Linked DNA regions of Homo sapiens. The protein of the gene in region 7 purifies or fractionates together with the protein of the main gene of each other region. This does not show direct contact. Each region holds a gene or a part of one and is shown on either strand. Other genes may lie near its edges.

The links.
Region 1: the proteins of DUOXA2 (region 7) and GPM6A purify together in Homo sapiens (affinity purification with mass spectrometry; one large-scale study listed by BioGRID and IntAct). This does not show direct contact.
Region 2: the proteins of DUOXA2 (region 7) and POLD3 purify together in Homo sapiens (affinity purification with mass spectrometry; one large-scale study listed by BioGRID and IntAct). This does not show direct contact.
Region 3: the proteins of DUOXA2 (region 7) and LMAN2L purify together in Homo sapiens (co-immunoprecipitation; 2 studies listed by BioGRID and IntAct, with this or other methods). This does not show direct contact.
Region 4: the proteins of DUOXA2 (region 7) and ADGRG1 purify together in Homo sapiens (affinity purification with mass spectrometry; one large-scale study listed by BioGRID and IntAct). This does not show direct contact.
Region 5: the proteins of DUOXA2 (region 7) and ROBO1 purify together in Homo sapiens (co-immunoprecipitation; one large-scale study listed by IntAct). This does not show direct contact.
Region 6: the proteins of DUOXA2 (region 7) and UFSP2 purify together in Homo sapiens (co-immunoprecipitation; 2 studies listed by BioGRID and IntAct, with this or other methods). This does not show direct contact.

What each region holds. Positions count from the first base shown.
Region 1 is NC_000004.12:175,801,782-175,805,874, forward strand, and holds part of GPM6A (neuronal membrane glycoprotein M6-a), read right to left. Parts: intron 1-4,093. UniProt on the Homo sapiens protein: Involved in neuronal differentiation, including differentiation and migration of neuronal stem cells. Plays a role in neuronal plasticity and is involved in neurite and filopodia outgrowth, filopodia motility and probably synapse formation.
Region 2 is NC_000011.10:74,616,356-74,620,448, reverse strand, and holds part of POLD3 (DNA polymerase delta subunit 3), read right to left. Parts: intron 1,913-4,093; coding exon 1,645-1,912; intron 433-1,644; coding exon 360-432; intron 1-359. UniProt on the Homo sapiens protein: Accessory component of both the DNA polymerase delta complex and the DNA polymerase zeta complex.
Region 3 is NC_000002.12:96,712,382-96,716,474, reverse strand, and holds part of LMAN2L (VIP36-like protein isoform 2 precursor), read left to right. Parts: intron 1-3,335; coding exon of another isoform or gene 3,336-3,368; intron 3,369-4,093. UniProt on the Homo sapiens protein: May be involved in the regulation of export from the endoplasmic reticulum of a subset of glycoproteins. May function as a regulator of ERGIC-53.
Region 4 is NC_000016.10:57,662,256-57,666,067, reverse strand, and holds the end of ADGRG1 (adhesion G-protein coupled receptor G1 isoform b precursor), read right to left. Parts: intron 2,617-3,812; coding exon 2,486-2,616; 3' UTR 501-2,485; downstream 1-500. UniProt on the Homo sapiens protein: Adhesion G-protein coupled receptor (aGPCR) for steroid hormone 17alpha-hydroxypregnenolone (17-OH), which is involved in cell adhesion and cell-cell interactions.
Region 5 is NC_000003.12:79,761,058-79,765,150, forward strand, and holds part of ROBO1 (roundabout homolog 1 isoform a precursor), read right to left. Parts: intron 1-4,093. UniProt on the Homo sapiens protein: Receptor for SLIT1 and SLIT2 that mediates cellular responses to molecular guidance cues in cellular migration, including axonal navigation at the ventral midline of the neural tube and projection of axons to different regions during neuronal development.
Region 6 is NC_000004.12:185,399,037-185,402,557, forward strand, and holds the end of UFSP2 (ufm1-specific protease 2), read right to left. Parts: intron 1,688-3,521; exon of another isoform or gene 1,443-1,687; coding exon 1,356-1,442; 3' UTR 982-1,355; coding exon of another isoform or gene 981-981; 3' UTR 742-980; coding exon of another isoform or gene 534-741; 3' UTR 501-533; downstream 1-500. Other genes in the region: ANKRD37 (ankyrin repeat domain-containing protein 37), read left to right, coding at 534-741. UniProt on the Homo sapiens protein: Thiol-dependent isopeptidase that specifically cleaves UFM1, a ubiquitin-like modifier protein, from conjugated proteins, such as CD274/PD-L1, CYB5R3, DDRGK1, MRE11, RPL26/uL24, TRIP4 and RPL26/uL24.
Region 7 is NC_000015.10:45,112,979-45,117,718, reverse strand, and holds the start of DUOXA2 (dual oxidase maturation factor 2), read right to left. Parts: upstream 3,394-4,740; 5' UTR 3,114-3,393; coding exon 2,967-3,113; intron 1,921-2,966; coding exon 1,863-1,920; intron 1,596-1,862; coding exon 1,461-1,595; intron 1,255-1,460; coding exon of another isoform or gene 1,204-1,254; coding exon 990-1,203; intron 629-989; coding exon 414-628; intron 354-413; exon of another isoform or gene 205-353; coding exon of another isoform or gene 4-204; coding exon 1-3. Other genes in the region: DUOXA1 (dual oxidase maturation factor 1), read left to right, coding at 1-204; DUOX2 (dual oxidase 2 isoform 2 precursor), read left to right, coding at 4,308-4,377, 4,643-4,732. UniProt on the Homo sapiens protein: Required for the maturation and the transport from the endoplasmic reticulum to the plasma membrane of functional DUOX2. May play a role in thyroid hormone synthesis.

The DNA.
Region 1 (4,093 bases), on a different chromosome or scaffold from region 7:
TAGAGTAGCAGAGTTAAGGCCAAATATTGCAATGATTATATAACTGTAAGTATGACACAAAGTTTCCTTCCAATTTAGCAGAAACAATGGGCAAAAATATTTTTGATATTTATGTAAAATAGTGGTCGCTCTTGATACACAGATGATATGAAAGAACCACATGTATCATAAATCAGTAGCTCCTTTTAGACCTTTGGTAAGCATACTACACTCCGTATAAGTATAATGAGCAGATCCCAATCATTTGGAGGGGGTTCAAAGTTGCTAAACAGTGTTGTAGAGATCAATCATGGAAATACATGCTTGCTGTCTCTTTGTGAATTAAATTTTCGTGCAGTGTTGCAAAAAAAAGTTACTATGTAAAAGTAACACATAAATAAATAAGCTTATCTTTCTTCAAGATTATACTTTTCAGCCTGGCTATACAACTGGCCTATAAAACATGAAGTTATTTCAGTTGTTTAACAAGAATTCATTCTCAATTCCACCAAATAATGGTATCACAAGTTCATCTCAAAACACAAATTAGTGATTAATACATCAAAAAACTTAGTACACCAAAATTGTAGAGAGAATATGATGAGCATTGAAAGGTTAGATGGAAATACTCTTCCGATACCATTGACCAGAGCTCAAATGCCCTGTTTTCAGATACTGTCTTGATCCCATCTAAAATATAAGCCAATTGTGTGAGACTATATACCAATTAAAATACAAAAACTAAAATAAAGCGTAAAAGAAGGCAAAAGAAAATTGATTACTCATTGCATGCTATTTTTTAAATTCATTACCTTGAACATTACTAAACATATCCTAGAAAAGGTCTTATCTTATTAAACTGTCCTCAATGATTTCAAACTGTTATTTCTTATGTAATTTTGTTTTCTTTGATCAATACTTATGAATGAACACAGTAAGCCTAGTGTCAGCAAATTTGTAAACTACTTTGTTAAATTTTAACAGCGTATTATAAAATATTATGACATAATTTTCCAAGTTTCAGTAACCATTTGCTGAATCTGACAGTTTAATGTATTTGACTTCATTGCCAGAATCACAATGCTAAAAATATGTGTGGGCTCTTTAATAATAAAAAAAGAAAATCTATTCATTTTCAAGAAAGCTGCTACCAAACTACTGAATATATTTCAGGTCAAAGAATAAAAGAATTATTTTTAATTCAAATCTAATGACATAAAATGGAGTCCTTGCTGCATTCTCCCAAGCCAGGTTTAGCTGCTCTGTTAGATCTGTCTCTATTTAGGGGAAAAATTGTGTTTTATTCTTTCTTTAGTCTGCACAATTGACCTCTTCTTCTTCCTCTTTATCCTCTTCTTTTTCTTCCCCTCCCCTCTTCCTTCTCTTTCTCCTCCTGTTCTCGTTTCATCATCATCATCATCATCATCATCATCATCATCATCATCAGCTATGAATGGGTTTGTATTCAGAGCACTTTGCAGGTTGGGTTCATGAACAAACGATAAAAACTTTACCCTTCAGGAATTTGTACTTTGAGAATGGAGCTACAGCATAACACATACATAAGAAAAAACAGTAAGATATGCCATATAGTAAGTGACAAACATTTAAGAAATAACTGTTACAACAATTCGAAAAAGTTATTAGTCCTTTAATTCTGACTCTCTGACTCAAGGAAAATTGCTTGGTCACCTTTTTAAATGGGCACAGTGTGTTAAGATGAGAGGAAAGGAAACATGGAGAAGGAATCTGCATTTACTCAACTCCTAGTATGTTCCAGGAATTGTAATAGGCGCTTTTACCTAGTCTTTATTACATCTAACTCACATTAAACAGACCTAAACCCAAAGATAATGGTAGAGAAAATTAATTCTCAAAATGGAGATTTTGAAAAAAATATGGTTGAATAACACAGATTAAGTTACAGAGAAAATGAAGGTGGAGAAAAGGAGCCAGGGCTTTAACACAGGTCATCTGATTGGGAAACCAAAAGTCAATTGGCCACTCATTATGATGGTCAATTGAAAAACTCCTGGCCCTTATACATATTTAAAATTCATGGAGACAATCTGAGTGGGTGGTTTCTGAATTCTAGATCTTATGACTCAATTACAACTTTCTACTGTGAAAGGTTGAGCAGAGATTTAAAATGCTTTAAGTTCAATTATTCTGACTAATATTCAAAGCATTCTTTTCACTGTAAAATGGTTTTTTTTTTTAACTTGATGAAAAACTAAAATAACGTCTCTGAGACAATAAACCACTAAATGAATCTGGCTTTGGTAATACATTGGTACTATTTAAAACAGAGATTCTCAAAGCCTATGGTTGGTTTTAAATTGACAAACCACATTCAGTGTCATATCTAAGAGTTCCATTGTTCAAACATTGCTCAATCCTTATTTTAATAATGAATTCTATTATTGAATATTGAAATATTGAAAGGTGTTTGAAGAAAAATAAATATAATTCCTTACTGCCACTCAAATGTACAGTCTGTGGTTCCAAAAATTTGAATTTAAATGCCCTTATTGTGGGAAAAATAAATTTTTAACTAGAAAAATGGAGAAATCATTTGGCTCATTCTCCCTTCTGCCCACCTCATAATCTTTCTTGGAACTGAAATGGAAGACTACCTCATTTTGTTACATGACAATTCTTTTTTTCTCTGGATGTTTGTGTGAGGTTTTCTCTTAGTTTCCTGTAGAGTTTGAACCCAATGGCCCTTGACTAAATAGTGTGACCGTAAAGTCAAAGAACATTTGATATTTATTAAAAAGCTGTAATCAATATTTATTAACTAGTGTTAAGATATATTGACATTAGACACTGCATATGAAATGCTTAGAACAGTGCCTGGATTATTAAATATTAGCTATTATTATTAATATTTTCCTTGACAAATAAATCATGCTAGTAAAAGTACTTAATTATGTTTCTGATGTTCAATAACGAAACTGAACAGAAAAACTGATATGGTATAGGCTGTTAAAAATGAAAGTGGGCCGGGCTCGGTGGCTCACGCCTGTAATCCCAGCACTTTGGGAGGCAGAGGCGGGCGGATCACGAGGTCAGGAGATCGAGACCATCCTGGCTAACACAGTGAAATGCTGTCTCTACTAAAAACACAAAAAATTAGCTGGGTGTGGTGGCGGGCGCCTGTAGTCCCAGCTATTCGGGAGGCTGAGGCAGGAGAATGGCGTGAACCTGGGAGGTCGAGCTTGCAGTGAGCCAAGATAGCCCACTGCACTCCAGCCTGGGCGATGAGCGAGACTCCATCTCAAAAAAACAAAAACAAAACAAAACAAAAACAAAATGAAAGTGGATATCCACCAACACAGGAAATGTGTAGAAGAATCTCAAAAAATTTTTTTTTCAAAAAAAAAAGCTGTCAAGTTTTGGGGGGAAGGTAATTTGGCCGTGTACTAGTTCTTTATTTGAATTATTAACTAAACTTTGTTGCATAAAACAACAATCGGAATAAATACAGGTGTAAAGTTTTTCTCCCATATTTTATTTTTGTTAAGAAAGAATAGGTAATTCACCATTCAAATAACCTTTCTAATGGGGAATATTAATTGCAACCATAAAAATGTAGAAAATAGTTTCCCAGACATTGAAAGTTCTATTATAAATCAATGAAGAATGCTAATTAGCAAAATACTTTAATTGCCTCACTTTTACTTGATAACCAAGAAAAAGCATGACCATCCCCTTTTAGGAGACAATATGAACAATCTCTTTTATGTTTCTAGCATCATTCTCAGGGATAGATTTCATCCAATTCCTCTCTTTGATGGAGGTAAGTAAAGTAAAACTCATCATTTCTCATATGATAAAAATTTAAGTCCAAAAACATTAAACAATTGAAACAATGTAAGAAAGTGTCTTTCTTTCTTTGGGAAATCAATCTGGATATATACAGCAGTTAATGTTCTAACATGTTGACATCTCTTAATACACATCATTTAAAAGCCGACAGTCATTCTTCCTTTTTTCTCTGACCTCAGATTTCCTCATATTATAACTTAATTCCCTAGTAAACTCTATAAACAGACTCCAATAAGGAACTGAGTCTCATCTTTGACCAAAGTTATATTTCCCACTCACAATT
Region 2 (4,093 bases), on a different chromosome or scaffold from region 7:
CTAGCATCCACGTTATTAACCTCAACACTATACTGCGTAGCCAGGCAGCCTCCCTTTTATTTTAATCACCCATTTTCAAGGGCCCTATGAAGCAAATAGTTCATTATCTTTTCAAGGCAGGAAGTTAAACCAGGAATAATAAACTGCTCTCAAAGAGATCTCAACTGAGCCTAACTCACCCATAAAGTTCTAGCTGAGTTACTTTCATCAATATATTGGGCAGTACACTGGAAATTTGTTAGAATGCAGGTAGTCTCTTGGATTGGCAAAAACTAGACAAAGTGGCTTTCACTTCAGGTATAATATGTCATTACATTAACATTCATTCGTTAGTCAAAGTGAGGTAAGAACATGCTTACTCATAGCAGCTTTTCCAAAAAAGTTGCTCATCATATTCCCTTTCCCTGGTGCCTTGTTGCCTGCTGCAGATGCCTACAAGCACAGAAAACACATATGATTTTTTGCTGGCATTTAGGCTGTTCATGAAGTAGCAGTCTCAAACAAACTCTTCTATAGCAAACTGTTGCGATGGTATAGTCTCTATATAATCATGCCAAAACGCGTAGGTGTTAGATATAAGAACAAATCTAGAACAATAATCCACACCAGACAGTAACTGGTGTTAATCTCTAAAGCTTAGTTTCTTATATATCTTATAAAATTAATTATCCATGGATATAGCTAAACTTTTCTTGAGCACATTTAAAAACTATTTAATTTGACAGAATTAAAAAAGATCAGAGGCAGTATGTACACAAAGCGGGAAAACCTAAAACATTACATTTTTAATCATCAGAAGTAGATCTGAATTCCTGGTTCCCACCATTTAGTAGCAATATGGGCTCCAGGCAAATTACTTAAGTCTAGGTTTCAGTTTTACCATATGCGAAAGGGAAATAGTTAATATCTCCCTCACAGAACTGATAAGAGGATTTAAACAAAGACACTGGCACACAGTTGAAATTCAATAAACGTTAGTGTTTTCCTCCATCCTTCTTCTTTCCCAAGACAGACGCTTGAAAATGACAGTGATCTGAATTAAATACACTTGACACTGGAAAATGACAGTGATAATAATAATAGTAACAACAATAATTATGCTTTTCTGGATTTTTAAAATAGTATCTTAATGATACTTTTCTTAAGTCAATGCCCTTGAGTTAGTTCAGATGACTGAACAATAAAAATCTAAGAGAAGCAAATAAGGCAAAAACAAAACAAAAAAACCTGCATAAAGTATAAGAATGGGAAATACACTAGGAAGGAAGGTATATGTTGCAAAGCCCAGAATATAAGATGTTCCTCAGAAAGACATATTGCAAATAAACATTTTTTTGAATGTCAACAATTCTCGAGGTGTTTTCACATGTTTTCATCTGGGTTTCACAACAATCTTGTAATGTGCACAAGGTAGGCATTACCATTTTGCAAAGGAAATCCAAGGTTTGGTGAGAATCATTATCAAAAGCAAAAGAACTCTTTCAGATAACAATATCAAGTATTAAAGGGTTCAAACTAAAGTAGAAAAATCAGAACTGAATATCAGAATCTTATATAAATAAACTACTACCACTGCAACCATTAATGCTTTTCTAGTTACCCACTCTGAGCTGCAATGAAGGGGTATCTTCAAAGAAGACTTACATTTGTTACTTCTTTAGCCTCTGTTTTCGTTTCCTTGTTGGTTTCTTGGGTTTTAGCAGCAGCTTTGGAGGCAAACATTCCCATAATTCCTTTGGGCTGCTGGGAAACCTGCTTGGATGCAGGTGGGCCATGACCATTGGTGGTCAGCTCATTGTTGGCTTGTGTCTCACTTGACATGTGAAGATGTGACTGCTCAAACTTTTTGGAAGACGAAGAGGATTCAGCAGGAGCTCTAGGGACGGCAGCTGCACATTGTATAGCACTAAATCTGGGGACAGAAATGTTACATTAAGTTAATGTCAGCATATGCATTCTTGGGTGGTTCAACAAAAAAAGAAAAAAAAAACTAATGTCAGTATAAAACTTTATTTTCAAACTCTTGCTTCTTCCACACAATACTTAACTCTAATATTGTTTAGAATCGACTTTAGAAAAATGTATGAAACTCTCTATTACATAAAGAAACAAATATTAGAGAGAAGTGAGTCACTTTTACTAGGTTATACATCTAGTTAGTAATAGATAGGATTGGAATTAGGTGCCTTCTACCACTAATTGAATATTCTTGTTTTTGATAAAAGTATTCTAATTCAAAAGAGTAGGAATGCAACCAACAATAATAAAAGATGCAGTAATTTCATTATCCTTGGGAAATGAAATAGCCTTTGTTTTTAAAGACCTTCCTCTGATAGGGCTAGATTTGCAATATTGACTGAATCAAAACTAAGCTTTAAATATTAACAAATTTCCTGGCAACTCTCTTGGCCAGAGTAAATCATGCTGTAGGGTTGGGCGCATTGGCTCACGCTTGTAATCCCAGCGGTTTGGGAACCTGAGGCGGGCGGATCGCTTAAGCCTAGGAATTTAAGATGGGCCTGGGCAACATGGTGAAACCTTGTCTCTACAAAAAATACAAAAATTAGTTGGGTGTAGTGGCGCATGCCTATAGCCCTGATTACTCAGGAGGCTGAGGTAGGAGGATCACCTGAATCCAGGAGGTCAAGGCTGCAGTGAGCCATGAGCTCATCACTCAACTCCAGCCTAGGAACAGAGTGAGATGCTGTCTCAAAATAAATAAATAAATCATGCTTTAAAACAAAGAAGAGGCCAGGTGCAGTGGCTCACGCCTGTAATCCCAGCACTTTGGGAGGCCAAGGCAGGTGGATCATGAGGTCAGGAGTTCAAGACCAGCCTGGCCAACATGGTGAAACCCCGTCTCTACTGAAAATACAAAAATTAGCTGGGCGTGGTGGCACGCGCCTGTAGTCCCAGCTACTCAGGAGGCTGAGGCAAGAGAATTGCTTGAACCCAGGAGGCAGAGGTTGCAGTGAGCCAAGATCACACTACTGCGCTCCAGCCTAGGCGACACAGCAATACTCTGTCTCAAAATGAAAAACAAAAAAAAATGGGAGAAGCTGGAAGCAGAGCCACTGGCTCCTATAACCTATAGTCCTTTACAGCCATTTGTTAATAATTTCTAATAATACTAACAGCACCGGACAAGTAAGTATGCCCAAGGCCAAGAGAAGAAAATTGGTGGAACAGCTTGTGTGGCATATTAAAGGGAACATACATCTCTCTCTAATCATTATAGAAGTGCCGTTTCACACAAATCCATAATGTAACATTCCACATTGTGAATGGGTAATTGATTTAGCCTTCTCAAAGGATTGTACTTAAAGCAAAGTTCCCCAGCTTTTTCTAACAAAGAAAAATATTTTATTTTTCCCAGTCTTGCTTATTGAGCATATGTAAGACCTCCTTGAAGTCTTATTTATCTTTTTTATTTCAGGCACCCAGCTCAAGACCTGGCACATAGAAAAGTGCTGGAAACGACATGTTGAAAGAATGACTAAGTGAATGAAAGTGAGGCTTCTGGCTTCTCTCCCTTCTTTAGTGTATCACCTTCAACTTGGGGTGGGAGATTTCTAAACTATGTGGTGATGGCAATTATCTTAAAAGATCAACCAGGCACAACTTCAAGATTAACTGCTAGAATACCTGGCCTAATGAAAAAAAAAAATCCCTGATACATCATTTCATCTCAGAAGTAACTTTAGACTGGGCAGCCCCAAAGCTAGAGTCAAAAGCTCCAAAAATCTTCCACTGATTTATTATGGTCTTCATCAGAAAACTCTGTATTTACACACATCTTTTATGCATCAGAGTTAAGAACAGACGGAAATCATTTGCTTTCACCCACTGCTCTTCCTCTCTGACCTTGCAGTGCTTCCATATACAAGGAAAAGAGTAATGTTTTATTTCACTGTCAACGTCTGAAGTTGGCCTTGAAACAACTCTTTCTCCTCTGGTCTGAATTCTACACCATAGGGTCAGGACCAGGAATTGGCAATGAGGAAGAGACCGAGTTAGGCTAGGAGTATGTCTGATGACAAGAGATCTCTGCTCAATCCTAAAATTTCAACTCTCTTCATGTCACGGCACTTCT
Region 3 (4,093 bases), on a different chromosome or scaffold from region 7:
TCAGCTTACTAGACAATGGTATGGTTTGAGATGGAAACACTGCTCTAAAAGAGTGGCTCCTAGATGCCAGTGTATGAACTCCAGTTGTGTGGTAACAGAGTTTTCACTGGTGCAAGAATCATAATAATGAAGTTCTTTTTCTTAAGTGCTAAATGTATTCAGTTGTTTCATTATGAAATTACATTGTTCTCTCTCATCTTTTGGTGTTAAAGTGTCCCTTTGTAAAATGATGTTTATTATAGATGATTGTTCTGTCATTATTGTATTTTAATATTTTTAGTAGGCAATAAAAAGAAGCCAAATCTAATACTCTCCAAAATATTTTTGGAAATATTAATGGTTGATCACAGCCAGTGGTCTGGGAATTCGTGCTTTAGAAGATGTATGTTTGGCTTTGTGTTTATATATATATGAGTACCTGTGAACGATATTTGTATCTAGAAATACACTAGTCACTGATTGAATGTTTATTGACTCCCTCCTGAACACCAAGACATTGTACTAAATGCTTCGCATATCTCATTTCATCTTCATAATGAACCCTGTGAGCTTTGTATTGTTCTGTTTACAGTGAGGAAATAGAATCTCAAAGAGGTGATGTAATCCACCGAAGGGTTACACAGCTATAAGTGACATAACTGCAGTTAGAACTCAGGTCTCCCTAATTACAGAGGCCATTTGGAATTTTAGCCTAGAATCCATAAATCCACAAGCTAATGGGTGTCTTTTCCATCGAAATATGCTGAAGATACAGTTATCCCGTAGAGGTCTTCAAAAAACACTTTTTTAAAAGTAGTCTTGTAGTACAAAAAGTTGAAAACATTTCTCCACCCTTTAAACAACAGTCCTTTGGATGATAAAACAGGTGAGAGTTTCTCCTTTCTGGTGACTCTTAAATTAGGAATAAAACTACCACCTTGCCTGAACCAGTGTGATTCTTCAATCTTTGGTTCTAACTTACAGAGTGCTTTCTAGGGGAAAAACAAAATTGCTCCTGTGTGAAATTAGTGGTTATCCAAGAAATACTTCCAGGAACTCTTGACTAGGCGTAGAAAATAAGATGGCATTTAGTGACTTACACTAATGTGAGGTTAAAAGTTGAAGGCCAACTCGTGTTGCCGAAGTAGACAGATTCTCTGTAGTTGCAAAGCTGTGAGGCTCCCTGTCTGGTGCAGCGTTTCTTCAATTTGGCTGCACATCACAGCCTTCTGTGGTGCTTTTTAAAAATACATAATCCTGGCTGGGTGCGGTGGCTCACGCCTGTAATCCCAGCACTTTGGGAGGCCAAGACGGGCAGATCACGAGATCAGGAGTTCGAGACCAGCCTGACCAACATGGTGAAACCCCATCTCTACTAAAAATACAAAAATTAGCTGGGCATGGTGGCGAGCGCCTGTAATCCCACCTACTCATAAGGCTGAGGCAGGAGAATTGCTTGAACCCAGGAGGTGGAGGTTGCAGTGAGCCAAGATTTCGCCACTGCACTCCAGCCTGGGTGACAGAGTGAGACTCCATCTCAAAAAAACAAACAAAAAACAATCCTGCACCCCACTCTAGCCATACGAATGAGACTCTTTGACTGAGGGACCCATGTATACGTGCAGTTAACAAGCTCCTTCAGGTGCTCCCAAGGTCCAGCATGCCTCTGGCTGTTACCTGGAACTGGGTCCACACCAGCCTTGGGAAGAGTAAGGCACCCTTAGGCTAAGGATTGCTGTCTCTTTATTATTTGTTTATTTTCTAAGCAAGCTAACATAGGAGATTGCTATCTCTTTAAAGTTGCAACTTAAACTTCTAATCAGGGTTACTAGAGGTGATGAGTGAAGGAAGCCTTGGGCTCATCAGAGCTCCACAGGGCATTTTTAATCCCTTTTTCTTAATTGTCACTGAAATTATGAGCATACTCTCAGATGCCAGTTTCTGTAAACTGCTTGATAACATGCTCACCATTTCCTTGTTCTAAATGGTAGTTGTTGAAGATTAACTTCATGCCAGTTTAATCATCCACGGATTGATGTCATGCCTTTCTGTGTCCTGTATGAATTCTGCCAGTGGTGTTAAGAGGAGGACGGCAGGGGATCTGCACTGCAGCCTCGGACTCCTGGCTGTGGCCCATGGAGCCCAGTGCCGTGGGTGCTGCCTTGCCTCATGGCAGCCTCTTCTCACAAGCTGTGATTCTGACTGATCTGTTTCCAGTTCCTTGAATGTGCCACCCTCATGCTTCTTGTGCCCTCAGATCTTTTGGTGGACTCCCTCTAATTACTTGAGTCTCAGCTCAGATATTGCCTCCTCAGGGAGAGGTTCCCTTGCCCATCCCTTGTATTACCTATTTTATTTTCCTTATAGCATTTTTCACTATCTGAAATAATTTTATTTGCTTCTTTGTTGTTTGTTTCTTCCACTCTGATCTTAATTCCATTCCTGTCTGTCTTGTTTCTCTTTGGACCCTCAGCATCTGGAACAGTACCTGGCTTGTAGTAGGTGTTCACCGTATTAAAGGAGTGAAGGGTTTGAGTTCTGTACCCTCGCCTACCTGTCCCACAGGGCAGAGCTGAGCTGAGCTTGTGTAGGTACCTCTTGTCGCTAATGGCTTAGAACTGCAGCTGTTTGCTGGAGCAGAGCTTAATACCCTCACGCCTGATGATTTTCTAAATCTGTCATTCTGCAATGCCTCCATGGAGCTTCTTCCTTGCCTATGTGTGGTAGGTTAGAATGACAATAGTTATTTGGGAATATATGACCATAAGGCTCAGTTAGAGGGTAAGTGATCCCTTTGGATTAGAGTTAGTTTCATAGTCTCTCAAGTGGCAAGATTTTGGTCTTCTGGGCAGGAGCTGTTTCCTGAGATCCTGGATAGTAAAGGATGTCTTGAATTTGGAAGAATTTAGCCCTGTTGTCTCCTCTTTCCCCTTGCTATAGAAATACAGTAGGCTGGGTACAGACAAACTTGAGACTGACTCCCAGAGACATAAGTGCGGCGTGCCTGGACAGCGTACTGCTATGTGTTTTATAAAGTGCCTTCCAAAAGCTTCAGGACCCTCTATGGGTTAGAGCGGTCTTCCTAGGGGACCCCTTTGAGAATCTGATATAGTAACAGACCCTCTCCTCAGAAAAATGTACAAGCACCCGTGCATATGGTTTTGCCTATCATCTTGAGGGTGCAAAGACTTCACGGATGCCCTTCAGGGACCCTAAAATTCTGTTTGGGGATTTAAGTTGGTTTGTTCATCCATCACAGCTGGGTCATAGCTCTTCTGTGGCTGTGTCTTTCTGACTTGGTCTCCTGTCTTCTGTGCCCTCTCTTGTTTTTATCATAACCTGCTGGACCCTCTCAGGCCCAGAAGAGGCGATATTCTCCAGGAGTCCAGGTACTCAGTTCTTGGCTCATCATGAGCATCCCTCATTCCCATGTGTCCATCCAACATTTGTTGCTGTTTCAAGTCCATGTGGTTGTCTCAGGAGTCCCCGGTCTCTGGTCTCGACTGCATCTCCATCTTGCATGTTAACCATTTGGGACAAAGGGACAAATACTCCCCAAAGGAGTGGCATGCCTCATGTTACCCCTTCACCACCTCACTACCCTGCCTTTTTGCACTGCCTTGGCATTGGGCTTGTTCTGGAATGATTAGTTCGCCATTTCTAAGGAAGAATTGCTCCTACAACTCTACTGGGGAGAGAGGGCCCCTGAAATAGATGGGAAAATGAGTGGCTTATGGGAAAACTTGCAATTTTCTCCCTGTTAAGGGAGAACCTTGCCCTCTTATTATTATTCGGAGAAGTTACGTGTGGAGGAGGCTTAAGTGGGCTGGAAAGTCTTTTGACTAAGGACAGTCATTGTGGCTGGCTGAGCCCATCCAGCAACCCCGTTCCATGTTCTGAGTTCTAATCCATTTAGCCTTATATGCTTATAGAATTTTAGAATTGAAAAGAGCTATCCTGAATGGAAAGATTCCCCTGCTCAAACAGGTATTTTCAGAATACCCGCTGTGTGCAGAACCATGGTTGGGAGGAGATGGGGCTGAAGTTTAGACATATGAAGACGTGATGAATGAATTTTTTCTTCAAGAAGCTTATGTGGCAGTTGGGGAGATAG
Region 4 (3,812 bases), on a different chromosome or scaffold from region 7:
AGGCTTGGGAAGGTTTGGCCTCTGTCCTTTGGAGCTGGGGGCATAAGAGGAGCCCCCCACCTGCAGAAAGGTGGGGACAGAGGTCAGTGGAGGGAGTGGAGGGGGTGGAGGGAGGGCTGGGAGAGCAGCAGGGCACAGGGGTTCTTGGTCCCTGCAGGTCCCAAGATCCCACATTCACGCCCCTCAGAGGGCACTGCCAGTCTAGACCCAGCTGCCTCACACCCACCTTGTCCAATCCAAGACTCTGAGCCTCTTCCCCTGCTGGGCATCCCCCTAGAGTGGCCAGGGGAGGAGGGAGGAGCCTGCAGAAGGGAGAGAGTGGACTGTGGGCCTTGGGGAGGACTTTGGCTGCACTGGGACCTCTTACCTGAACACAGTAGCAATGATCCGTTGTGACTGCCCTCATCACAGGGAAGATGGGAACCTGCGTGATCTGCCTCACCTGGGCCTTAGGAGCGGGAGGAGAGATTGATTTGGTGGAACAAGGTTAAAGGCAGGGATGGGAGAGAAGTCCAGTGATTTAATTCTTGCAGCCCACCTGCTGCAGAGTGATCAGTAAACTGGTTGCATAAATCCCAGGACCAGGCAGCTTTTGACTGTAATCTCTTTGGCCAGAAAATGTTTTGGATTCGCCAAAATTTTAAAATCAGGGGATGTCAAACCACAGTCTGGATTTCCCATTTCTCATAAAAGGCAGGTGGTCTGGCTACATGGGCCCTCATCCCTGCAAGGTAGTGACCAGCTGGAGCTGATGAGCAGCCACGCTCTCAGCATGGGGTTGGGAGTCTCCAGTTCGCCACAGGCCCCACCACTCCCCATTGCCTCCCCAGCACAGACACCAAGTTGCCATTTATCTTCCCCTGTGCCCTGGTTGATGAGGTTTCCAGCAGTCGATTTTTTTTTTTTCTTCACACACAGCCCTCTTCTCTCTTTCATGTTTCCTGATTGGCCCCAAGGTATTTGTATTAGTATCAGTGACTCTTTCAATAGAAGCACAGGAAAAAGCTCAGAAGGAAATGACCCAAAATGCTTACGCCAGTTTGCTAGGTGATTACAACAGCTGATTTTTATTTTTCTTCTTGATTCTCTTCTACAGTTTCCAAATTCTCTACAATGAACATGTACTTCTTTTTAATATCAAAAGACAAAAGAATTGGTACGTAAAAAGAACATCCTTCCCATCTTCAAGGTCAAGATTGAACGCTGACTCCTGCAGGAAGTCTTCCAGGATTCCCAGGCAGGAATGATGGCTCCCTGTCCCTGTAGCTCCAGGAGTTCTTGCTTCACGCACGCCTCACATACCAGACTGAATGTTGGCAGGAGGAGTGACCAGGTCGGTCATCTGTGTCCCTACCACCTACAACAGGCCAGCAATCTACCCGTGTGTGTTTGTTGGACAGAATTAACCATGATGGGCGGCCGAGGGCGCCTGGAGCTATTTGGGGGCTTGGAGAGAACCTCTTAGGAGAGTGTCAGGCCCTAGGCCAGTGTCACCAGAGGAGGTCAGTCTCAGTCCTTGGAGTGGTGGGATGGAAACCAGACGGGACTGGCATGGTCCACAGTTCTTGCCACAAGAGGGCTTCAGGAGAGGCTGAGGGCCCCTCTGAGGCGTGTGCTTGGTCAGGGTGAGCAAGGGCAATGCAGCTCATACAAAGGCCCAGATGGACAGAGGGACCTAGCCCAGCCCACGCATCGGTACCGAGCCTGGCTCAGGGGCAGGCCGAGGCTTGTGCAGTAGACAAACATTTACAGCAGACACCAGGCAGCTCCTGGAAACCACTCCCCAAAAAACAGCATTGGAATCGGGGACCCCCAGCTGTGAACGAAGGAGCAAGGAGGCCCTGGGAGAGGAGGAGAACCCCAGGGAAGATGGAGGGAGGACTGGGGGGCTGAGGGAGGGAGGGGGCCTGGGCTCAGAGGTAGGCGAGCTGCTGCTGTGCTCCTGGCAAAGGGCCTCTCCTCCGCCAGGGCTCTGGCCCTGAAGGTCTGCCCTGGGCCCCATTCGCCCTGGGTGCCACCTGAGGTTAAAATGACAGAGGATGCAGAGTGCCCTCAGGGTGACCACGAGAGACAGAGCAACTGGAGCCACATTTCTGTCCCAGGCAGGGGCACAGGATTAAGGATGTGCCAGACCCTCAAGATCCAAGGCCTGGCCCCCAGCAATGAGGGCTGGGCCCAGGGGTTGTAAGGAGAGACCAGGCCTCCAGCTGGGTTGGGACAGATGTGGGGACAGTACCCTAGGCAGCATGGCGGCGCACTTCTGAGTCCCGTGGGAGCTGAGTGAGAGCCGAGTAGTCCCCAAGGCCAATTCAAAAGCCCAGCCCGGGAGTCCGTCCACCATGGCAACGGCCCATCTCTCCATGGTCGTTGGGCTTTCCAAAGTCTGCGGCTGACTGGCCTGGGGCTGGGCCGGGCTCGGGGGCCACAGGCAGTGTGCGACGAGGCCGAATCTCTGCTTCATCACATGGGCAGGTGGGCTGGAGGCCTAGATGCGGCTGGACGAGGTGCTGCCCGAGCTGATGGGGAGCCTGGCGCTGTCTGAGTTGCTCTTCAGAGGGGAGGGGCCACCCCGGGCCTGCAGCCGCATGGACCAGTACCAGATGAAGATGAGGAAGCCTGCGGGCAGTGAGGGCACGGGGTCAGCAGGTGGGGGAGCCCCACCCCATCCCTCCTCCTCCCTCCCCAGCCATTGTGACTCGGGTCTGCCCCACCTCTCCATAGTGTTTGCCAAGCACGTGCTGTCGGGCACCCATGAGACCCAGCGAGCACCTCCTATGAGCCGGGCACTGTGCTGCGTCCCCGTGTGGCCTCTCACTGTCACAAACTTCCTAGGCCCATCCTATTCATTACTATTCTCTTTTGTAAACAAGGAAACTGAGGCCCAGGAGGCTCAGGTAAAGGGACGTGGCTGAGCCAGGGCTCAAACTGTGGTGAACAGGCTCTGAAGTCCACCCACTTAAGCACTGTGAGATTTTGCACCCCTCAAATTAATAGCACTATGATGTATCCACAGCTTAGTAAATGTCTGTGTGAATGTATGGGCCTCACTTACAATCCTGAGTCCCCTCATCTCACAGGCAGGAATGAAGGCTTGAATGTTAAATAACCGAAATGTGGTAACATCTCCCCACCACCAACTCCCAGCTCCCATTCTAGGGTGACCCTGTATGGGAGGCTGGCCTTGAACCCCATGAGAGCCCCTGGGCCTGGCCATACAACCCCCTTCCATTCTGCACGGCCAGGAACAGAGGGGTGTGCATGCCTGTGTGTGCACCTCAATGTACACACACAGGTACATGCACAGAAAGGGACCCTGTTGGCATCAAGCCAGAGCCATCATGACCCTGCCCTGGGATCCCACCTCTCCGCCCCGACCCGCCGCCATCTGGCCACGCTCTCCCTCACTGTCCTTCCTACACACAACCGGTTCCAACCTCAGGATCTTTGTTCTTGCCTCTCCCTCTGCCTGGAGCTTCCTTCCCCTAGACCAGGGCTCCTGATCCTATCATGTGCACGTGACCCCTTGGGCATTTGTGAAAATGCAGATTCTGATGTGGCAGGGCCCGGGTGGCCCAGAGGCTGCGTTTCCAAAAAGCTCCTAACAACGCTGCTGCTGCTGGTCTGTGGACCGCGCCTGGAGTAGGGAGGCCCCCCCATCTCTCCATGGGGGGATCCTTCTCTTGTCTTCACACGTCTCATATCCAGAGAGGCCTCCCTGGCCACCCTTCTTAGGGTGTCCCCCACCCCAGCCGAGGCCCTGTGCAGCACGTGCTCACGACGATGTCCCTACTATCTGGGACCACCTTTGATGG
Region 5 (4,093 bases), on a different chromosome or scaffold from region 7:
TATATGCACTATATTATATATGAAATATATGTACTATATATAAAATATACTATATATTTTTACCATACCTACTAAATATATAATAATAATATATTTAAAAATATAATATATGTATATACTTATAGTATTTATAGAACACTATATTGCAATGAATATGAATAAAGTAACTGTACCCGAAGCAACTTGAATTAATCATAAAAAAATATTTCCAAGAATGCAAACAATATTTGACAATTTAGGCTAATATTTTATTTACTTAAGACAATACTATATATGAATTAAATATGTAATATATACAGTAAACTCAAGAGAAAATGCATAGAAATAATAACAGCAAATTTACCACACTGGTTACCTCTTAGAAGGGAGATTCAATCTGGAAGAGTACCCAGAAAACTTCAATATTACATTTAATCTTTTATTACTTAACCTGGGTGGTAATTCAAGGGAACTTGTTTCACTCATTTTTGTGTCTGCTAATCAAACTTGTCATAATAATAAAAAGTCAGAGTCATTAAAAGCTCCAAGTACTCTGCACAGCAGCACCTCAACTCTAAATGCCATGTTCACATGTGATTACTGAAATTCTGCTCTTGGCAAATCTGCCTTTCTGATGCAGGACTCTTGTACTTCAGTAAGAGTGACTCATGTGATCTAATTTACTATACTCTAAGCAAATCTTTCTCTGAAGCACGGTAATCTGGGAAGACACAAAATAAGATCTAAAAAGCTTTGCAAATGGCTCCTCCCCCAAATGCTAAATTAAGTGCCATATTGATCTGACTGAATTGGAGAGCAATTGTTGTGATAAACTCCCTGTTCCTAGTTACACCTGGAATAGATTCTGTTAATATGTGGACTCAAGTGCCCCACCCCCATATATTCTATTGTAGTAATTCTGATGGGGGATCCTGGGACTGGTGTTTTAAGGGCTACTTTTTTCACTTTTAAGATTTATTTGGTTCAATGGACAAAGTTTGAGACATACTGCTTCACAGAATTTAGAGTCTGTCTTAGTATCTTTAGGGTGCTACAACAAAGTGCTATGGAATAGGTGCCTTGTAAACAATAGAAATGCTTTTCTCATAGTTTTAGAGGCTGGAAAGTCCAATATCAAGGCGCTGGAAGATTTGGTGTCTGGGGAGGACCCACTTTCTGCTTCATAGACAGCCATCTTCTTATGTTTAGTCGGGGGGGAAGGGGCAAGAGAGCTTACTCAGACCTCTTTTATAAGGGCACTAATTCCATTCCTGAGGGCTCTGCTTTCATGGTCTAGTCATCTCCCAAAGGCCCCACTTCCTAATTTTAATTTCAGCATATGAATTTGGAGAAGACACAGCATTCAGAACATAGCGCAGTCTCATAGTAGAAACGAATAAATGATTACAATGGAATTTCAGAGGCATTATTAAATGATCAGAAAGGGAGGAATACTTAAACCTATTTTCTTAACATGAAGGTCTTCACAGAAGAAGTGACACTTGTTTTGTGTTTTCAAACATCGCTAAAAAAATAAGAAAGTGAGAACCATTTGGGGCAGAATTCTGGACAAACACACACACACACACACACACAAAAGCCGAGAGGAATGAAACATCCTGAGTGTTTAAGAAAATGCAAGTAAATTTTCATAGTAATTGATAATTCTGAAGACTGAAAAGAAGAATTCATGCTTCATATCACAGAGTACCTTCAATGACTAAGGAGTTTAGAAATTGTCATTTTTGCCCTGACAGATAGCTCGCCAAACTTGTTGCACATGACTTCAAATGGCTGATCCCAGGAAGTGGAAGTAAGAATTGGAGGGCAGGCCCATGAGGAGAAGAGGTGAAGTTCAAGAGAAAAATCATAATTTTTTTTTTCTTTTCACTACATGATCATAGGGAATGAGGCAGAGGGACATAGCAAAGAGGAATGTGTCTTGATGCATGATGTGCTATTTACCACTTGGAAATCTAAAGAGATAAGCAAGTGTGGCAGGGAGGATGATACCTGTGGCTTTGAATGCTTTCCTTTAGGACAGTTTCCTTTAAAATGCTTGTGATGCATTTCTAGGTGGAGATGAAATTAGATCTTTGGAAATATAGGTATGACAATCAGGAGCAATGCATGGACAAGAAATATAAAATTTGAATGTCATTACTGAAACTCCGGAAATGTATCACAACATCTGGGTGACTATCGAGTGCGAAAAAATAATAAGGGCAAAATGCAGAAATATAATGAAGAAATAGAAATTTATAGTTGATGGATAATGTATGTAAAAGTATATAAGGTAAAGGCTCAAAAAATGTTAGCTTACTCCTCTTAATCCCTGAATAAAGACCAAATTAGACAGCAGATGTTATTGGAAATTACTTGGAATTTCAGAGGTAAGGAACAGCAATAGGGTTGGAATAATAAGAAAAATTTTATGGTGGAGAAGGAACATGAACCACCCTAGACAAATGGATAGGGTTTGGCCAAATGAAGAAGATAATTTTGCAGATTAGAGAAGACACGTGTGCAGAAATGGAAAGGCAGAAAAGAACAACTGGCTGAAACTGACGTACTGGATCCTTAGCAGGCATCCTGGCTACATATGCACAAATTTCAAAGAAAATGGAAAGCCCCTCAGTTTTCCCCAAGTGCTCTGACCCCCAGAGATGATACAGGCAGGGTGGCAGATAGGGGTGGGGTATATTTTCTGAAAAAGTTATTTACTGTTTATGAGATCCTTGGAAAGTAACTGTAAAAGTTTGCTCTTGGAGAAATGCAGATAATGCTTTGGACATGAAAAAGATATCAAGGAGATTAAAAAATTATGAGTACTAAAATAAAATTCAAGGAATAATCAAACTCCTTGTTTAAATATGGGGGAAAATAGGTAGGTCCAGTTAACTGAAGAGAATGGCTCCCTTAAAAGCAGCAGTATGACATACTAGAAAAGCATGTACTCTGTCATGAGAAAGAACTTGTTTTTAATCCTGGCTCTGCCCCTTTTTGGCTGAATAGTCATGTCTATTTTCCTTAAACTCTCTGAGCTTCATTCTCTTCATGTGTTGTAGACATCTAATAAAGCCTACTTTGAAAGGGTTATGTGGGGATTAAGTGAAATATCTATTGCAGGTACGGTGACTAACACTGTTTCTACAGTTTTATCCTATGTAGTTTTGAATTAGTCAGTTAGCCTTCTAGGACCTCAATTTCCTATAGAATTAGGAGAATTGGCACTAATATATTTTAGGTACAAATATGAATACATTAACAGTAACATTGCTCACTTCAACAGCAAGTTTAGAGAGATAAATGATTATGTGACCAGGTCATAATCTAGCCTATTGTATGCTATCATGTTTTTGTCTGTGGTCTCAGAAAGAGGAAAATCAGTTGAGTTTAGGTGGCAAGAAGGAGCTCATTCTCCAGCAGATTGGTGGAAGCTCACCTCAAGATACATTTCAAATGGTGCATTGCACCTGCTCATTCATCAAGCTGCCAGGGGCTTACTTTACTGCCTTGCTTTTTTTCATTTAAAATTCACATCTTTGTGGTGTCTAGAGTTTCTCAGCTTTGTAATGAAAGTAATACATTAAATCTTGCTTAAATAAAAGTAGTTCCTAATGTATTAAGTATAGATGAAGGCCAAAAAGTGAGATTTTATAGCTAAGCACAACACTACTTTCCAAATAGTGCACACAAGTGTATAGCTTCCTTTTCATCTCTGGTCAATGTTATTTTGTATTTGAATTGATTCTACTATGTTATAAGATAAAAGAAAATTATACAGAACAATGCAGTTCTCTTTGGGGAGATATTAGGGTATTTGTTCTTTATTTTGTGCAGTATAGGGTAAGAGAAAGTTGGCATTAAACCTTTGGGACTCCCTAGGCAGCTGTTGAGTCTCTCCCCTCCTCCCATGCTCAGCTCAGTGCTATATCACTGGAAATCACTAACCTTCATAGAGTAGAGCCCAGAAGATGGTAACACTGGTTCAAGGACAGGCTAAGGGAAGCGAAGGGAAGTAAAAGGAAGTAAATAGGAAAATACAACAAACATGTGATTAACAGCTGTTTTCTGAAGCAAGGCTCCACCAGGGATCTGCAGCTGTGTCATT
Region 6 (3,521 bases), on a different chromosome or scaffold from region 7:
GAAAACAGTGGCTTCACATTTTATGTTTTCTTGGATTAAACTAATCAGACTCCTGAAGCTTAGTTACATGTGCTTTTAAAAATAATGCTTGCGTAATTGATAATTTAGTGTTAATCATTTAAATGTTAACTTAGGTTGTTGGTGCTATCGAATAATACTCAGTTCGAGTAAGTAAAAAGTCAGATCCTGAGCAATCAGAGGTGCAATTTTGTTCATTATGACTGTATTCTACTTCAGTTTCGGTTCAGGAAAACCCATTCTATAGTTCCCATTGACTACCTTTGGGTACTCATACACTGTATTAAACATCAGATAATTCTAACATTCATTCAGAACTGGAATGCCCGCTCTATGCTGGATTCTGTTAGTTGCTGAGGATACAATAGTGACCAAAAATGCAATTTCCTTATGCATCCTTTACCTCTTCTGTTCTGCAACCAACATTTGTATGAGCCCAAAATTCCCTTGTAAGATATAAAAAAAAAGACTTAAGTTCAATGTTTCATTTCACTCCGTTTTTATCCTGTTTTCAGTTTATGTAATAAGAACGGGCAAACAGCTGAAGATCTCGCTTGGTCATGTGGATTTCCAGACTGTGCCAAGTTTCTTACAACAATTAAATGTATGCAGACAATAAAAGCAAGTGAACACCCTGACAGGAATGATTGTGTTGCCGTGCTCAGACAGAAACGGAGTCTCGGAAGTGTAGAAAATACCAGTGGGAAAAGGAAGTGCTGGTAAGTAACTCAGAGCTGCTGCTTTTTTCCTCCCGCAGTGATCTCTTGTTTGCATAGCATTTATTATTCCATTTAATACTGACACTCGTATTTCTAGTAGTATTGTTTCATTCTCATTAACATTTTAGTACTGGTTATACTTACCAGAGTCTAGAGACCAAAAATGGGACTGCATGGTGGAAGTTTGGGGATAAAACTCTTTTTAAAAAAAAGTTTTTAATGTTAACGTGTTTTTAAAAACAGATGTCACGTGGGTTATGAAGAAGTCTGAAGAACGCCTTCATTTCATGCAAATCTATAAGCTCCTGCTTTTGGCTTTACCATATGTTGTGTCTAATCTCCTTCTGAGAAGGACGAAAAACTTTCTTCCAAGTGAAGATCCATTTAAGAACACATGTATTTACATGCCTATAATATGCTGGTTGTGTATGCTTTGTCTTTTAAGTTATTAAAGGAACGTCTAAAAAATACATTCTCCGTGCAGTATTTACAACCTTTGAAAAAGGTCATAATTTAAATCGTCAAACTAGAACCAGGATTTAATGTGAAAAATTAAACTGATTCTTTATTCACAAATTTATAATACCACTCTACTGCAGTCTTTGACTCCAAGATATTTTAAATCATATTTGGTCGCTGAGGAAGACATAAGTTATAGTATGCATCCTTGTTCCAAAAATCTGGGCCCTTCCATCCGCACCAGCCCTGGATAGAGAAGACGGGAAAGGAAAGCCTTTTACAAAGTTACAAGATTATGTCATGGAAATCGTGACATCAGGCTCTGTCAGCAGGACCTTGGAATAAGACTCTAAATGGCTTTATCATTCAAGGATTTGAATTCCTACTAGCATAGAAAAGTAACGTATCTTACCCTTTAAGGTAGGTTTTTGAACTTTTAATTCTATGTATGTAATTCATCATAAAAATCATTAAAAAAAATTTACCTGTAACTGTTATTCCAGATACCACACTTTACTGATTCTGAGATGTATAGTTTTACCACTTGCAACTGATAGCATGTGACAATTGAACTAGCAATCTGTTTTTCTTAATAGTCCATAAAGGACTGTAAGAGACCATTCAGTGGCATCTTAGGATTGAAGTACTGTAGTGAGAAACCTCAGCTTGCCCCCTGCCTGGCACTCTGTGCCCTTTCATTTTCAAATTCCAGGTGTTACTCAATTCTACTTCCCATGTTTCATGTCAGTATTAATCCTTTTTGCCAGCAGAGAAAATTACTTTCAAGCAAAATCTCATTTAGAGTATGAAAATTTCTCAGATTTCTCCTAGGGCCACTGAGTTATTTTATTAAAGAAGAAAACTTAAAAGCCAATAACTGGTCTGTATTATATGATTCTTAAATGCTTTGAGAAATCCTTGCAAGGAGGCTGAGACTCTGAAAATACCATGAAGTGAGTGACAAGCAGCGGTCTGACTCCCTCCTAATAAGATACACGTTGTCAAAAAACAAGATAAAAGTAAAAAATCCTCTACCAGTCCTAGGTAATCCCCCACTCTCCCTAGGTAACCAGCATTCTATTAATCATCTCATTTTTTCAGCAAAACTTTCTCTATTAATTTAATGTCCTAAAATCTGTTCTCTTAACAGACAGAGAAAAAAGGCTCATTCTGTTTTAACCTTTTTTTGATCCTTTTACACATGAAGGCCTTGTCCAGGTAACCAGATCCAGATTTTTTAAAGGAGAAATTGGTAGAGAGGGTGTCAGAATGGGATTGCATAGGGACATAGTGCATAGGACATGCTTCTTTCCTGTGAGATGACCAGCATGGGAACTTCAAACAGGAAAGCACCACAAGAAGGCAAAGAGGTCAGGCAGAGATGGAACTCTCCTCTGGCCTCCTGGGTTCCTGGAGTCAAGTGAATCAATAGTTTTAATGGCAGGACCTTGGCTGCACAGTTTCTTGTGTATACAAATAGAGCAAGGAGGTTTCTGCTGTTGAAAAGTTCTATAGAAATAGAACTAGCAAAGATGGAGATTGCAATTCTCAGAGAAAGAAATCAGGGACAATCCCTTACTCTAATTGTTCAGAAACCTTACCTAGATAATGCCATGTAGTGCAGAGCCCCTTGAGTCAACCAGAAAAGAGAAATTTGATGATGAAAATAATTAAGGCTTCTCCCTGCCTTTAAGAAAAAATCGAAATGCCTGGTTCACAAAGACCACCCTTTCTGACTGAGCTTGGTGTGTCCTTCCAGCCTCACCTCTTCGCCTAGCTCTGGACGCACTGATCTACCTGCAGTGCGGCTTTCACTGTTTCTACAAGGCAGGGGCCACCACAGCACCAGCCTCGTAGAAGCACCTGAGATACCATTTTTTTTTTCTCGAGAGTCCTTTTTGCACTCTCCTTCTCTGTCCTACCCTAAAGGTTTTAGCTCCCGAAAAACCTCGTGTAATACTAGTGCTTAGGACAGTGCCTGGCACTTGTTAGGTACTTTAATAAATACTGAATGGAATGAACACCTTGCTACAGAACAAGAATATTGCTACTATATTCAGTAAGATACATGCACCAGTCAAAAAACCTTTTATAGACTTCAAATTCCAAATGCTGTGAAAGAGAAAAGGAAAAAAAAACACTTAAAACTGTAACAACACATTTCTATCCTATTAGTGTTTATACCCTTATCATAAACAAAAGACTTCAGTAAACTGAGGATATAACAGAGTTGGACTACACACATTAAAAACTTTTTTTTGAGCTGGAATTTCACTCCTGTTGCCCAGGCTGGGGTGCAATGGCGCCATCTCAGCTCACTGCAAC
Region 7 (4,740 bases):
CGCCTGTGGCGGTGGGGATCGAAAGAAAGGAGGGCATGTGGAGTCAGGGCTATGTTGCCCAGGCTGGTCTCGAACTCTGGCCTCAAACGACCTTCCTGCCTCGACCTCCCAAAGTGCTGGGATTACAGGCGTGATGCCCGGGCCTTCTTCCATCTTTTGGAGCCTACCCCTTGTGTTACCTCCCGCCACACACCTCTAATCTGAATTACATGAAACACGGCAAGACACCAAACCCTTCTGAGCCCCCCACTTTTCATCTGTAAAATGGTCATAACAGTGCCTGTTTCTGCGAACTATTGAGAGGGGCAAATAGGGTAATAGATGTGAATTCATTCTGTAAACTGGAAAGTGCACACCCGGTGTGAATCCTGTCTCCACCCTTAGCCCCCGGGGCCCATTCTCTCGGTCCTCACCGGTTGCCAGCGTGACCCAGAAGGCGGCGCCGTACTGAGTGGTGAGCGCGGAGGAGCCTAGGCGGAGCGGGCAGAGCGGCACGCTAGAGATGGAGGCCAAGGCGAAGACCCCGAAGAGCGCGAAGGCTCCGGTGGTCAGCAGTGCCAGGCCTCCGTAGAGCGGGGCCGGCGTGGAGAGCAGCACGTTGGAGAGGAGCCAGAAGCAGAACGCCACCCTGCCGGGGAGTGGGGGGACCCGCTGTGAGCGGGCTTCTCCCAGCCCACCGGGGTTCCCACAGCTGCGCTCTTCTTTATCCCTACCCCAGCGTCAAAGCCAGGGACTGGGATGGCAGCGGTGCAGGGGAATTCCCCGGGGGAGAAGCGGGCTCCTGAGGTCCAGGCGGTGGCTGGAGTCTCTCCGGATTCCGTCTGTGCAGATCTCGTGGATCTTCTAACCCGCGAGGCTGTCATGCCCACCCCGAGCGCGTCGGGTCTGGCTGCAGCTGCTCAGCGCCTCCGAGGCCTGCATCCTCCCGCTCATACGGCCCAGCTCCTGGCACACACACACGTGCACACAGCCTTCCCTCCAGCACTTACCATAGCGTGGCCGAGGCGTAGTGTCCCGCCAGGTGGTACTGGTGGTACAGGCCGCAAGGGCTACTCGGTGTGAACTTCTCCGCCAGGTAGAGCACTGGGTCCGGCAGCCCCTTCTCCAGTGCGTTCGCGTACTCCGCGGCGTAATTCTCTTTCAGACGCCAGGTGAACTGCTCGTTGTAGTCAATGGTCTCGTTCAGCTGATGCACTGGGGTCCCTGTGGGGTGAGGCGGGCTCATGGGGCTGCCCGCGGTCGGAGACCTCGCAACTAAGCGGATTCAGACAGGAAAGTGGGGGTGTGGCGCTCTCGGCGGGAGAAATGGGTTCGGTGGTGGTTGGAGAAAACGCAAATCCACGAGGACCACAAGCTATTTGAGCTTGTGGGATGTGAGAGGCCCTCCAGCTATCCCTGACACACTCACCTAACCGGGGATCTCCCAGCTCCAGGAGTTCATTTAGCCCCAGCCCCCTCACCTGTGAGTGTAATATTAATGCCCTCCAGGCCCACGAGCAGACGGACACGGGCTGTAACGCGCGCTGCGCTGAAGGCTTTGTAGGATGTGTTGGTGTTCACTGTACCCACGAACCATTCTGCACTGAAGTGCACAGCTGTAGGGAAAGGCACACGGTGGGGGTGGGATGAGGGTGGGAAAATGGAATTAGAGAGTGGTATGGGAGGTGGGACACTGCAGAGAGATGGGGACTTAGAGGTCCAATGTGGTTGCATGGTAAGGGCCAAAAAGTGGGCCCTAGAAGGAGCTGGAGAGTGGGAAGAGGGAGCAGAAAACCAACCCCAGTTCCCTATTGTCCCAGGTGCCCTCTGCCCACCTCCTTCCTCACCCCGTCCTCTCCCCATGGGCTGCACCACACACTCACCCACAATTTCTGCGCCTATGAACAGACTGAGAAGAACTCTCACCAACCAAAACCAGCGCTGCAGGAATAGGCACCCGGGTCAGGCCTGAGCCCTGCCAAACCAGAGTCCCCAAGACCACCCTTGACCCCACTTCACCTGGATCTTTAGTTATATCCAGACTTTTGAGACTAATGTTAGGCACGCTTTTCCTGCAAGTCCCTCTGGGCTACTGGCATTTCTGATATTTTGTGACCACGCACTTTCACCTCCCTAGCCCCATTTCCCATCTACCCTAACAGCACCTCCCCTCCACCCCCACTTCCTGGCACTCTTCCACCACCTTCACTCCCCTAGCTGTCTGGCGCCTGGTCCTGGTTCTGCCTCCTGGTCCAGTCACTGCTTGGTGAGGCTCAGTGAGTCCAGAAGTGCTAGGCACGCAGGGGTCACCTCCCTCAGAAGAGGGAGGCCCCAGCCTGATCTCCGAGGGGAGGAGGTGGGAATGCAGATACTCCTAGGTGCACCAGTTCCAGGGAAAGCAACACAGATTAAGATGCAGAAAAGCTGGGTCCTCCCAGAACTGAAAAATGCACAACCTAGGTTCTGGGAGAGGGGGAAAGTCTAAGACAATGCACCCAGTTGGCTCCAACTTCTAATCCAATGTGGGAGTCTCAGTCCTGAGGATGAGGCACCCATACACATGTGTCTCAACCCAGTGCAAAGGGGAACACTGCAGTCTGAGCTGCTGGCATCTGTCCTTTTGGCCTGAAGGTCATCACCCACCGGATGGGATGAGAGTGCAGCTTTAGTCCTGGGAGAGGTGGGAGGCCCTCCAGCACAAGAAGCCTAGACTGTTCCTCAGGATTACTGGACTGGGTGCCCATTCTCTGCAGCAGCCTTCCCAAGGACCCAGCTGGGGTCCTTCTCCAGGATATCCTGGATGGGGAGCTCTCCCTATCCTTGGAAAGGGGTGCTTGCTGCACCAGACTCCTGACTTCACTCCACCTGAGCCTCAATTCGACTATTCATGGAGGCTCTTGTACAGTCTTACCTGTCCTGGGTCCCTCAGGAGACAATCTGCCCATGAGCCTTCCCCCACTCTACCTGCACTATGAGGACACCCTTACCGAGTGGCCACGGATCCCCGGCAAGATGAGCAGGAAGCTTGCTGCTAGAGCCAAAAACACTAGAATAACGATGAGCAGTGGAACGCTGAAGCCTGCGGCATGCCGGGGCTGGGGGTAAAAAGGCAGTACGCCGTTCCACAGGGTCATGCTGCACGCCGGCCGAGTGCTGCACGCAGGCGGGCAGGCAAGCCAGCAAGCTGGGGCTGCCTGGACGCGGGAGAGCGCGTCCTTGGCGTCTCTTTGCGTACAAGGCTGGGACCGAGTGGGCTGGTGAAGTCTGAGTCCTGCACCTCTCCGTTAAGGAAGCGTGGAGGTGGGCTGCTCTCAACGCTCTGGGGTTGGTACCGACAGAGTTTTTCTAGCCGGCGAGCGAAACTATTTCTCACTGTCTGTAGCCGTTACTTTCCTGGTTCTGCGGGTTGGCGCTGAGTTTGGAAGTCGCGCGGGACCCCTTTTATAGCAGCGTGGGCGACGTGCCACACGGGTGTCCCAGCCCAGGGGCTGGTCTGAGCTGGAAGAGGTTGTGCAAATAAGGGCCCCACCTCCACGGCAGGAGGGTGAGCCCTAGGTCCAGATGCTCACACTGGCGCAGGTCTGTCCTGAGCCGACACCTGCACAGTGGCGAGACCAAGGACCCAGAGAGAAAGGTGAGAGTGCAGCCGGGGAGGCTGAGGATCGGCGGAGCTGGAAGAGTGAGGGTGAAGGCAAGAAGTAGAGCACAGAAGCAAAGATTTTAAGAGGAAAGAAGACATCTGAACCCAACACCACCCTAAACCACAGGTTAGACCAGAGTTTGGGATCTGACCCTAGCCCTCGCCCATCATGCACAGGCGTTCATTGCAGAAGGGGAGTTTATTGGGGAAGGGGGGATTCATTGTGGAAGGGTGCTGCAGTCCCTCACTCCCAGGTCAGTAACCTTTTTCCCTTCCCTGCCTCCTGGAGGAGAAGCGGAGCCTGACGGATCGGGGGCGGGTGGAGGTGAAACATTGGAGACATTGGGCACACCCTGGGAGGCTTGACCAGTCCTGCCCTGGACTGACATGCCCCAGAAGACTCCTGCCCAGTGGGTTCCTATGGTCGGGGGTTAACTCTCTGATGGGGTGGCGGATGGGGAACAGTGTCAATGCCTCCAGAGCTGCCAATTGTCCTGGAAAGAGTGGCGTTTGGATGAAGGTCCTCGGTGATGCTTCTAACAGCTACCTTCCAGAAGTGGAAACAGCTGGTGCTCCTCCTCCAGTACTAGCTGTAGGAACAAGAGGGGAGGCATAGAGGACGCCCTAACAGTGGCTTTCGCATACCACCTACCACCCCCACCCTCACCCCGCAGGCTGCAGGGTTGGCATGCTCCGTGCAAGACCAGAGGCACTGATGCTCCTGGGAGCTCTTCTGACTGGATCCCTGGGTCCATCGGGCAAGTATCAGGCTCCTCTAGCGGCGGGGTGTTCCCCAGGATCCCTGGGAGGTGGGGCGGGGAGAGGTGCGGCAAGCGGCTCCCTGAGACTGGAAGGTCATTTCGCCGTGCAGCTCAGCGGGATGGGAAACTTCCCAGTGCGGCCCGACACTTGGGTCCGGTTAGGGGCGCTCCGCGAGCTGGGGAAGGACTGGCCAAGGCCTTCGTTGCTCGGGAGGGGTAGCTGGGAGCGTAGTGCTGAGGAGGCCCTTCTCTGTGCCCACAGGCAGTCAGGACGCACTCTCACTGCCCTGGGAAGTGCAGCGCTATGACGGCTGGTTTAACAACCTGAGGCACCACGAGCGTGGTGCTGTTGGTGCGTTC